Linked DNA regions of Homo sapiens: region 1 is linked to region 2. Evidence: fine-mapped expression QTL. A gene starts in region 2. The other region holds a variant in brackets. All regions are shown on one strand. Distances are from middle to middle.

Region 1 (5,000 bases), 390 kb before region 2:
GTAAAACAAAACTGTATTTGCCTGAAGAATGCCGCTGTTTACAATGCTCATTTAATGTTTAAAATGCTTACAAGATTCTGCTAATCACTTCCATTCTCCTAAGTCAACCAAACAACCCAAGGAGTAAGCTTCATGGAAGTGATGTGCCCTGAGTGGGAAGAGTCAAGCCTGGCTTGCTAGAGCAGCACTGCACACTCCAGCTCCTCTGTGAGGCCAGCCTGTTTAGATGAAACAGAACACCAGCCACAAATCTAATTGTGCATTTTTCTAGTAGCCATGTTTAAAAAGGTAGAAAGAAACAGAGAAAGTCAATATTAAAATACATTTTATTTAATCACCAATGACCATATGACAAAATGCTCAAGGAAGAGGGAGAGAGGTGGCTGTGGCTATAAAAAGGTATCATGAGAAATCCTTGTGGTTGAGTTGTTCTGTATCTTGACTATGGTGGTGGCCATACAAATCTAAGCCAGTAAATATAAATCCAAAGCACAGTGAAAGATCACCTATATCCTCTAGGATGACTACTGTTAAAAAAAAAAAAAAAAAAGTGTTGGTAAGTATGTGGAGAAACTGGAACCCTTGTGCCCTGTTGGTGGGAATGTAAAATGGCACAGCCTCTATGGAGAACAGCATGATGGTTCCCCAAAAAATTAAAAATAGAATTACCATATGATCCAGCAATTCCACTTCCAAGTATATATCCAAAAAAATTCAAAGCAGAATCCCCCAAAAGATATTTGCATACCCATGTTCATAGCAGCACTACTCACAATAGCCAAAAAGTGGAAGCAACCCAAGTATCTCCTGATGGATGAATGGATAAATGAAGTATGTGATATACACACACTGGAACAACCTTCAGCCTTAAAAAGGAAGGAAATTCTGACATGTTGCAAGATAAATGAACCCTGACGACATTACGCTAAGTGAAATAAGCCTGTCATGGAAGAGCAAATACTATATAAATTTCACTTATATAAGGTATCTGAAGTTGTCAAATTAATAGACAGAAAATAGAATGGTGGTTGTCAGAAGCTGGGGGGAGGGGGAAATGGGGAGTTGTTTAATGAGTACAGAATTTCTGTTTTGCAAGGTGAAGAAGTTCTGGAGATTGGCCGCACAACAAAATAAGTGCACTTAACACTACTGAACAGTACACTTAGAAATAAATGGTTCAGATGGTAAATTTTACGCTTTGTGTTTAACTGCAATACAAGTTTATATTTTATTTAACCTATATATTTAAAACACCATTTCAACATGTAACCCATATGAAAACAATTAAACTATTTTGCATTCTTTTTTGTCTCCTCAAAATCCAGTGTGTATCAATAATGACAGCACAACTCAGTTCAGACTAGTCCTATGTCAAGTGCTTAATGCATGTGTGGCTTCCCTGCTGAGTAGTGCTGAGCTAGACCTCAGCTGTCACCACTACGTGGCAAACCTTACAGCTAGATCCAGGTAATTAAAAACACTTTGGCAGAGCAGAGGTCAGGATCTTTTTCTTGCTACCTGCCTTCTTCAACTTTATTTGTCTGAAAGGCTAACAGGCAGAGCTGGACTGACTCTCAACATCTCCTGGGCTTCTCCTCTTTGTCAGGCACTCGCTAGCATCTGCAGGCCATTATTCCCCGCCCAGGGAGCTCACAAACTAAAGGAGGGGTCAGACAAGTACCAGCTATAAGAGAAGTACCCACAAGACGCTGAGGAAAAAAAAAAAAAAAAAAAGAAAGCCATTAACTCCCATCTGTGAATTCCAATGTGCCAGGGAACAAGTATAAAATTTAAGACATTTACTAACATGACACTAGGGAGCATTCCTCCATATCCTGACTTTTCTCAACTCTTATTTCCAATTGTACTGACTACACTTTAGTGTACTGACTACACTTTAATTTCCATTAAAAACACATATGGCATAAAACACTCATCCAAAAAGGCACTCAGTAAACCAACACATGTGAGTGATTTTGATAAAAATAATCAGTTATTCACTAAGGTATCATTTGTCAAGTTAATCCTCCCAGAGTGTAAGGAGACTAAAATTGAGGAAAAGTGAAAAAACTGTATCTGTTGCCCCACAGAGAAATATATTCCTTGAACTTGTCTTCAGAAAAATCAGAGACATAAA[AG/G]GAAAATATGAAAACAGTGTTAATACAAACACTCAACTACTATACATTCCTCCTAAGACTTGACTTTCTCATTAGAACAAAGTTTTGCAAAACAAAACTTCAAGACACACTGATCTCTACCCCAAGTTGCTGAGCAAAAAACTGCTTTGCAGCTAAAGGAGCCCCTGGCTAAGGCGAACCTCTTTATAACCTCACATTTGTGTTCCACTAGTTCAAACCAATCATAATGACTTCTTTGTGGAAAATGTATTTTGCAATAAATTATCAAAAGCTTCATTGAAGAACTTCATGGATAGGGTTGAGTAAAGAATACTAAACAAAGTCAAGAGAACCACTTATCAACTCAGCATTATTTCAGTGGTCTTCAGGCATGAACTAAGACTGTAGAATGTCCAGAGAAAATTATGGACTACATAAATTGTAAATTTTATGCTTCAATTTAAGAAACTCACATCTGGCTAAGTCCTTTCCTCCCCCAACCCCAACTCATCCTCTCCCAAAACAAATCTCCCAAAAACTTAACACTGAAAACTTACCTCGGTACATTAACTTTAAACAAACTCCTCGTAACTTCTCATTTAATCCTATGCATTAAACTCTTCATCACACCATCTACTGAAATGCAGCTAATACTATAAAATTACACCTCAGGATCCACTACTTTACTTCACAGGTATAACCATTAGCTGTGCATAATTATTTAGATTATGATCTTTGAAGCCCTGTATATTTCATCTCAAGTAACAGTGCTTAACTTATAATTAGCTTGTAAAATAGTATTTATCAACAAAAAAAGCATTTGTGCCTGTCTTTACATTAAAAAATACACTATCTCACCCACTATTCCCAGTTCCAGGGAAGGAGAAACTATTTCCATGCATTAACCCATCACCTACAGAGACCAATGTATGCATTTTGCTTGAAAGGGAACTGGTTAGAGAAAATAGCTTAATAACCACAAGTGTGAAGCTTTTGTTGTGAAAGTGTGAAAAGCTAATACCTTCCAGAGGGTCTTTAATGCACGTGTGTTTCACGATACACACCATAAAGCCCTGTTAACTCATTTAGTAAGCAAGGATGTTATAGTAAGCGAGAATGATCATATATATGGGGGAGCATTTTCATGAGTACAACAAAAACTACAAGCCAAGAACTTCTAAGGCTGAAATGAGTTCACGAGCAGTAGTAACAGCAATAATAAAACTTCCAGCCCCTTTCCCTAAGGAGGGACCCTAAAAAATTACCTCCTGGCATTTGGCAAGAGACGTGCAGCCAGCATGTGTAGCTGCTGGGATGTCTGTCATTTCTCCCCACCACCTCACAGGTGTGCCCAACCTCTGACAAGTGACCACCACTCTGAGGTTCTTTCCAATTCTATAACATGGGCAAAGGCCTGCCTGATTTACCTCACTGAAGCCTATGAAGACAGAGCTGGATGGTATTTAGAAATGTCATTTTGTTCCAGTGTCTGTTCTGATGGGTTTGTTGAGTTAGCCTTCATCATGAGGTACAATCTAAATTATAATAGACTCTGTACTGGGTTTCCTAATTGATAACTCTACCAACTTACTTCTATCTTGTTCATGTATGGCAAGCTAATCTGGACAAATGGTCAATGTGATTGACTACTGATCAAGACATGAACCTTTTCCATTGGTGGGGAACAGCAAGTCGATCAACACAGACTCAGCCCCTCACCAAGGTTACCCAAAGTATGTACCCAAAGTCACATGCTGTAGGTTCAAGGGCCAAATCAAGTCTGCAGATGTTTCTTTTCAGCTTGTACAATGTTTTCAAAATCTGAATCAGCTGTCAATGTTGAAACAGGGTATCTGGCATCAATTTTGCATTCCTAGGTTATCTTGCAATATAGGAAAACCCACCCTGAGACCACATGCCCTCACAGCCACAATTAGGTGTGGCCCAAACATAGAAGGGGCAAATACTCTCCAATTTACCAGTCTCCACCAGGTCAGTTCCTTCCATGATTTTGCTGTGGGCCTCTGTGGTATTTATGTTAGCCACTCTTGGTTCAAACCCTACTACTGCCTTTAATCCCTGAAATAAAAACCTACAACCTAATCTGATTAGTACTATGTCCAAACCCTCTGAGCAATAAGCACAAAGAGGAATTTAGGCAGAAAACAAACCATTTTCATGGTTCTATGTTGGTACTGCTTTCATGAACTAGTTCATTTTTTTAAAAGTGTTATTTTCAAAAATGATTGTCATCTTTCTTTACACTTTTGATTATTAAGCTATTTTCTGTAAATGATCAGTTCCCTTTCAAGCAAAATGTCATTACTATGTAAAGCCTGGTGGTTAAAACACACTTTAGCTTAATGAAGACAGACCTGAAAGCTAATGTTTGGACCTCAACTCATCACTGCCACAAAAGTTAGTAACTTTGTAAAAATGTTGATGTGGGCCATGCGCGGTGGCTCACGCCTGTAATCCCAGCACTTTGGGAGGCTGAGACAGGCAGATTACAAGGTCAGGAGATTGAGACCATCCTGGCTAACACGGTGAAACCCCATCTCTACCAAAAATAGAAAAAATTAGCTGGGCGTGGTGGCACGCGCCTGTAGTCCCAGCTACTCTGGAGGCTGAGGTAGGAGAATTGCTTGAACCCGGGAGGTGGAGCTTGCGGTGAGCTGAGATTGCACCACTGCACTCCAGCCTGGGCGACAGAGCAAGACTCATCTCAAAAAAAAAAAAAAAAGTTGGTTTGATAGTTTGACACATCCTCCATTCCCATCTAAAGATGGAATAAATCAGTTACGGGGTTTTAAAAGGGGATTTTAAATGCCACACACAGCCTTCAAGCAGATTCAACCATCCACACGTCAACTGCCTCTTACC
Region 2 (5,524 bases):
AACCTCTTTTGGAGGAAAACTGTTTCCTGAGCTCTTATGCCCTGGGATTGCCTGGCCCTGTACAAACTTCTCACTATGTACACACAGCACTCACCACTACGCTGCCACAACCCTCTCCCCTACACCTACTTTAACTGCAAAGACCTGTTTGGGGTAAGGTGGGGACAAGCCACAGGAGATCTGGCATTGCCTCAGAGAGGAGGAAGTTTTATTTCTCATCTCCTAATGTTCTATAACATTTTACATTAGGAGAATGTTAAAACATCCAGAAATCAAGATCGCCATCTTCTAACATGGGCTAAGGTAAAATCTGATAGTACAATATGAACTTTCAAATAGATAGATATCAGAATCTTTAACCATTTGGGGAAAAAATATGAAATGTTGTTCATGCCATTACTACAACTCTGAACTATAAAGTAAATAAACAAGAACTGGAAAGAATGGAAAAGTGTTTGTCAGGGTAATGGGATTTTTGCTTTTCCCTTTGCGTGCAAGTGTGTTTTGGTATCCCACCACAACCAGTGTTTACTCCATGCCCACGCAACAGTTTTTCATTCAAGCTTCATAACACAGCAGCATTGATATTATCTGCATTCTGTAGATGAACAAATGTAAGTCAATAAGGGGGAAAAAAAAATCCAGGACAATGGTCACACAGGAAATAAACTGCCACACTGGACCCCTTATCCAGGCATGCCTTTCCTCTGTCCCTATGGAATTCACAAGGAAGTCCCTTCTGCTTGCCTCAAATCAGTAGTTTGGTTATTACAATTTTGTTCCGTCTTTTAAACTGCAGTTATCTAAACTGAAAGACAAAGAGGTGATAGCCCAGGAACAAACTGAAAAGACTGAGGAATATAGGAGGGGATGTGTGTCTAATCAGATGCGACTGAACTCAGTATGACTTAAAGCAGCCGTTCACAAACATTGATTTTAGGAACTCTTTGCACTGTTAAGAATTATGAGGTCCCAGCACTTTGGGAGACCGAGGCAGGCGGATCGCTTGAGGTCAGAAGTTCAAGACCAGCCTGGCCAACACGGTGAAACCCCATCTCTACTAAAAATACAAAAAATTAGCCAGGCGTGGTGGTGGGTGCCTGTAATCTCAGCTACTCCGGAGGCTGAGACAGGAGAATCGCTTGAACCCAGGAGGTGGAGGTTGCAGTGAGCTGAGATCACACCACAGCACTCCAGCCTGGACAACAGAGTCAGACTCCGTCTCAAAAAAAAAAAATTATGAGGTCCCCAAAGAGCTTTTATTTGGGTGGGTTATATCCACTGATATTTCCCGTATTAGAAATTAAAACAGAAAAGTTTTCAAATGTTTATTAATTCATTTGAAAATAACTAATAAATCTATTAGTGTATTTTATGAAAATAACTATTTTCCAAAACAAAAAAAGTTAGCAAGAAGAGTAGCATCGTTCTATATTTTTACAAATCCCTTTACTGTCTGTCTTAATAGAAAGCAGCTGTATTCTCATGTCTGCTTCTATATTTTTTCTGCTGGAATACTACACATCATGTGGTCTCTGGAAACTGCCACTGTACATTAGTGAGAGAATGAGAGTGAAAAAGCTAATAACTTTTTTTGTATTACTATAAAAACAGTTTGTACTCATGAACCGCCTGAAATGCTCTTGGGTCCCCCCAGGGCTCCCTGTACCACACTTTGAGAACCATAACTTAAAGAACTATGTATGAGAGAGAGGGAAAGAGAAGTCGGCGAGACACTGATGGATATACCCACCATCCCACACTTCTCACTTTTCAACTTTCAAACGCCCCCAACTCCCCACTAGGTAACCTCAGTGCAGGAACCCCAGATTCTCCAAGGACAGCCTGACGTTCACTCAAGCCATCTCCTTCCCTCTCATTTCCGCAAAATAAATTAAACGAGGGCTAAGTGGGCATGGCTAACCAATTAATCCTCCACGGGCACATACTGACATTTTTAATAGGGCCTTTCTTAAGCTAGAACTCCAAAGCATGCCTCCAACTGGGCTTTTCAGACTGCTTGAAATGGGTATGAGAAAGAGAGCCCACAGGAGACACGAATGCCGAGTTCTGGTCCTGACTGTCCGGTGACTGAACCATCTCTCTATCTCCAGTGCAGCTCAAGCACTCAACCCTCTGCCTGCTTCTCAGGGCTGTCCTGGCATCGGATGACATCGAGGACCTGAGTTCTTCTTATAACCAAACCGCCCCGCTGAAGCTGCCCATTCCGCACACCTGCACTCCGAGGGGGTCCTGTAAGCCTGTCCCACCCCGACGCCCAGACACGCCCTGGACAGGGCCACTCCATCCCTGTGCGCCCATCCCATCGCGGTTTTCTGTCCCCTTCTCCCCACCAAGGGTGGGACATCGCGGGGCGGGGACTCAAGAAACAGGTTCAACAAACCAGCAAGGCCGATCTTCCAGCCACACGGTCTTCGTAGACACCGCGCCTGTCACCGCGGGGCCCAGCCCTGCACCCGACTCTTCGTGGGGGAGGGAGCTCGGGAGGAGAGGGCACCTCTCAGGGGGCCGAAGAGGTCGGCGGCGGCCGGCTGCGCCCACACACCTGGGGAGGGGAGCCCGTCACCTGCGGCGAGGCAGGGACCCGCCTCTCAGGCGCGGCGCACACCCCACCTCGCCCTCGCCAGGGCGTTGTCCGCAGCGACGCTCCGGGGACCGAGGGGACACGCTCGGCGGCTTCGGGGGCGCGGGCAGGGGCGACGGCCGCAGCGCGGTACCTTTGCCGGAAGAGCGGGCGCCGCCGAGGAGTCCGCGCAGCTCGTTCTTGAGGCTCCAGAAGTCGCCGTCCAGGTAGCGGTGCAGGGAGGAGTCCCCGAGCCCCAGACCCGGCGCCGGCTGCATCGCGCTCACCTGCCTCTGCTTCTCCGCGTGGCTGGCAGGGCCGGCTTCGCTCCGCGCCTCCTCCAGCTCCCAGCAGGTGAGGCCCCAGGCGCACGCCCTCTCCCTCTCCACCCCTCCCGGCCCGTCTCCTCCCTCCTCACCTTCCTCTCCCCTCCCTCCCCGGCCCCGCCCTGCCCTGGCTTCCCGGGCGGGAGGTCCGGCGCGAGCGGGCGCTTCTACGGTGGCCTCCCCTTGCCCTTCCGAGGAAGCGAAAACTCTACCCTCCAGTTATCAACTGTCCCTCAAGATTTGTGAGCCGTAAGAAACAAGTACTAGACCCCTAGAAAGGGTGCCAGTCACGTGGACCTGGGCACCAGAGGCCCGGCTGCTCAGGACTGACCGGCTGACCCACTCAGCAGATCTCCCGGCCAGCCACTTTGCCTGACCCCCACGACCCAAGATAGCCTGGCTCCAGCTCTGGCCCCTCCTCAGCTGTATCTCACCTCTTCCCCGCACTGGGCATTACTGTGAACTCTAATATCACGGTAATCTAAAGGCGTCCCAGGTCTACAGCACTGCAGTCCAGGGTAGCTGGAAGCTGCATTCATGACGAGGTGATCGACCGGAACACGATACTCATTTCCCAGGACACTCCTTTTTTTGTTGTGGCTGGAGGAAAATGAGTTATAACCTAAGTGGAAAATGTTCCTTCCTTTCTGCTCCCTAATTCTCATATACCTTGTTGATTCTCCTTTTAAATACTCAAGGAAATGTTAGCCGTTCCCTTCCAGAGGCTACTTTGCTGGGGAGATGATGGTGTGGTCTGCTGTCGTGAGGTTAGTGGATGCCATCTGTATTCGTTTCCAGTAACAAATTCCCACAAAGTGAGTGGCTTAAGATAGCACCAATTTATTCTCTTACATTTCTGGAAGTCAGAAGTCCAAAATAGGACTTACAGGGTTAAAATCAAGGTGTTGGCAGAGCTGGGTTCCTTCTCACAGCTCCAGGGAAAAATGCATTTCCTTGTCTTTACTAGCTCCTAGAGGCTGCCTGCATTTCTTAGCTCCTGGCCCCTTCGTCTGTCTTCAAAATGCATCACTTCAAGCTCTGCTTTCATCGTTCCATCTTCTACTGACTTTGACCTTCTTGCCTCCCTTGGACTTGTTTACATGGGACCCATGGGAATAATCCATGGTCAATGGGAATAATCTTCCCACCACAAGATCCATACTTTAATCACACCAGCAATGTCCATTTTGCCATATCAGAAACACACTCTCCGGTACTAGGGATTAAAACATGAGCACCTTTGGCGAGTCATTCCTCTGTCTACCACACCTGTGCAGCTGCGAGTAATAATACCCAGTCATCCATGATAAAAGGGGCTTTGTTTTCTCACATCACAGGAAGCTTGGTGGTAGGAAAGCCCCAGGGGTGAATTTGATGGCTCTACCCTGGGGACCCAGGTCCTTTGCATCTTTCTGCTCCACCATCCGCCATCCTTTCTCTATATGTAATCGTTACCTTTTTTTTTTTAACTTGTCTTCTACCAGTTGTAAGATGGATGCTGCAGCTCCAAGCACCACCCTGTGCAAAGCAGAAGAGGAGTATTTCCTTCTATATCAGCCAAAATAGTGTAGTGGTAACAAACAACCCCGAAACGACTTCACATACACTTCCTCAAATCTTAGGGCCTAAAAAGACAAGAGTTTATTTCTCACTCATGCTACCTGGGGGTTCTGTTCCATGTCCCCTCGGTCCAGGTCCTGGCTGACAGAACAGCCATGATTGTGTGGCCACACTGGCTTTTAAAGCTTCCAGCTGGAAGAGACACACATAACTTCTACTCACAATCCACTGGACAAAGCAGCTCACTCCTGTCTCGATGGGGGAAGGGAGGTACCACCCTGGACATGCCCAGGAGGTCAACACCCAAAATCATCTGTAAGCAGAGCTAGTGACTATTCAATCTGCCCTTCTGGTCACACTCTCCCTTCCACAGGCAAAATATACTCTCCATCCTTCCAGGGAAGCAGCCAAAGCCCCACACCTCCACAACATCAAGTCTGAGGCCCCTGGGGGATACAGAGTGGTCCTTGCATCAAGTCAGGATGTGGCTCCTCTTGATCCGGAGACCTATAAACTGAAAAGATAGGTTACTAAGTTAACTTCCAAGTGAGTGTTTGCTTGAGTGAGAAAAAAGAAAGGCCTCTGTTCTTAGAAGCCACTAAGATTTTTGTTGTTGTTGTTGTTGTTTCTTGACGTGGAGTTTTGCTCTTGTTGCCCAGGCTGGAGTGCAATGGCATGATCTTGGCTCACTGCAACCTCTGCCTCCTGGGTTCAAGCGATTCTCCTGTCTCAGCCTCCTGAGTAGCTGGGATTACAGGTGCCCGCCACCAAGCCTGGCAATTTTTTGTATTTTTAGTGGAGACACGGTTTCACCATGTTGGCCAGGCTGGTCTCAAACTCCTGACCTCAGGTGATTGTGATCCACCCACCTCGACCTCCCGAAGTGCTGGGTTTACAGGCATGAGCCACCGCACCCGGCCAACCACTAAGATTTTTTTTGAGGGTCATTTGTTACGTAGCCAATCATAGAAGATACTAAAAGAATGTTGCTGATTAAATAAAAAACTAAAATAGGTACATTGGCTTAGAGGCTGGGAGGGGCAAGGAGGATGCT

Which allele goes with the higher level. Positions count from the first base shown, and alleles are read on the strand shown. Sizes are in standard deviations (SD) of each study's normalised expression.
For the expression in stomach of the gene that starts at base 2,940 in region 2, G is the low allele of the variant in region 1 and AG is the other (moderate effect, 0.44 SD a copy in GTEx).

What was found. PIP is the estimated chance that this variant, and not a neighbour inherited with it, causes the effect.
Region 1: its variant is the best candidate, but not a certain one, in a credible set for the expression of ACOXL in stomach (GTEx, PIP 0.60).

The regions. Positions count from the first base shown.
Region 1 is chr2:111,124,154-111,129,153 of GRCh38, reverse strand. All of the region lies in intron 2 of BCL2L11 (BCL2 like 11), which reads right to left. Among named protein-coding and RNA genes, the nearest start is that of BCL2L11, 5.7 kb to the right of the region's middle. The variant AG/G (reference allele first, on the strand shown) is at 2,138.
Region 2 is chr2:110,729,989-110,735,512 of GRCh38, reverse strand. It overlaps ACOXL (acyl-CoA oxidase like), which reads right to left and starts at 2,940. Exons shown (of 18, transcript NM_001142807.4): 1 at 2,739-2,940. LOC124906064 (a long non-coding RNA gene) reads left to right here and starts at 3,088. Exons shown (of 3, transcript XR_007087181.1): 1 at 3,088-3,159; 2 at 3,609-3,677; 3 at 3,878-4,152.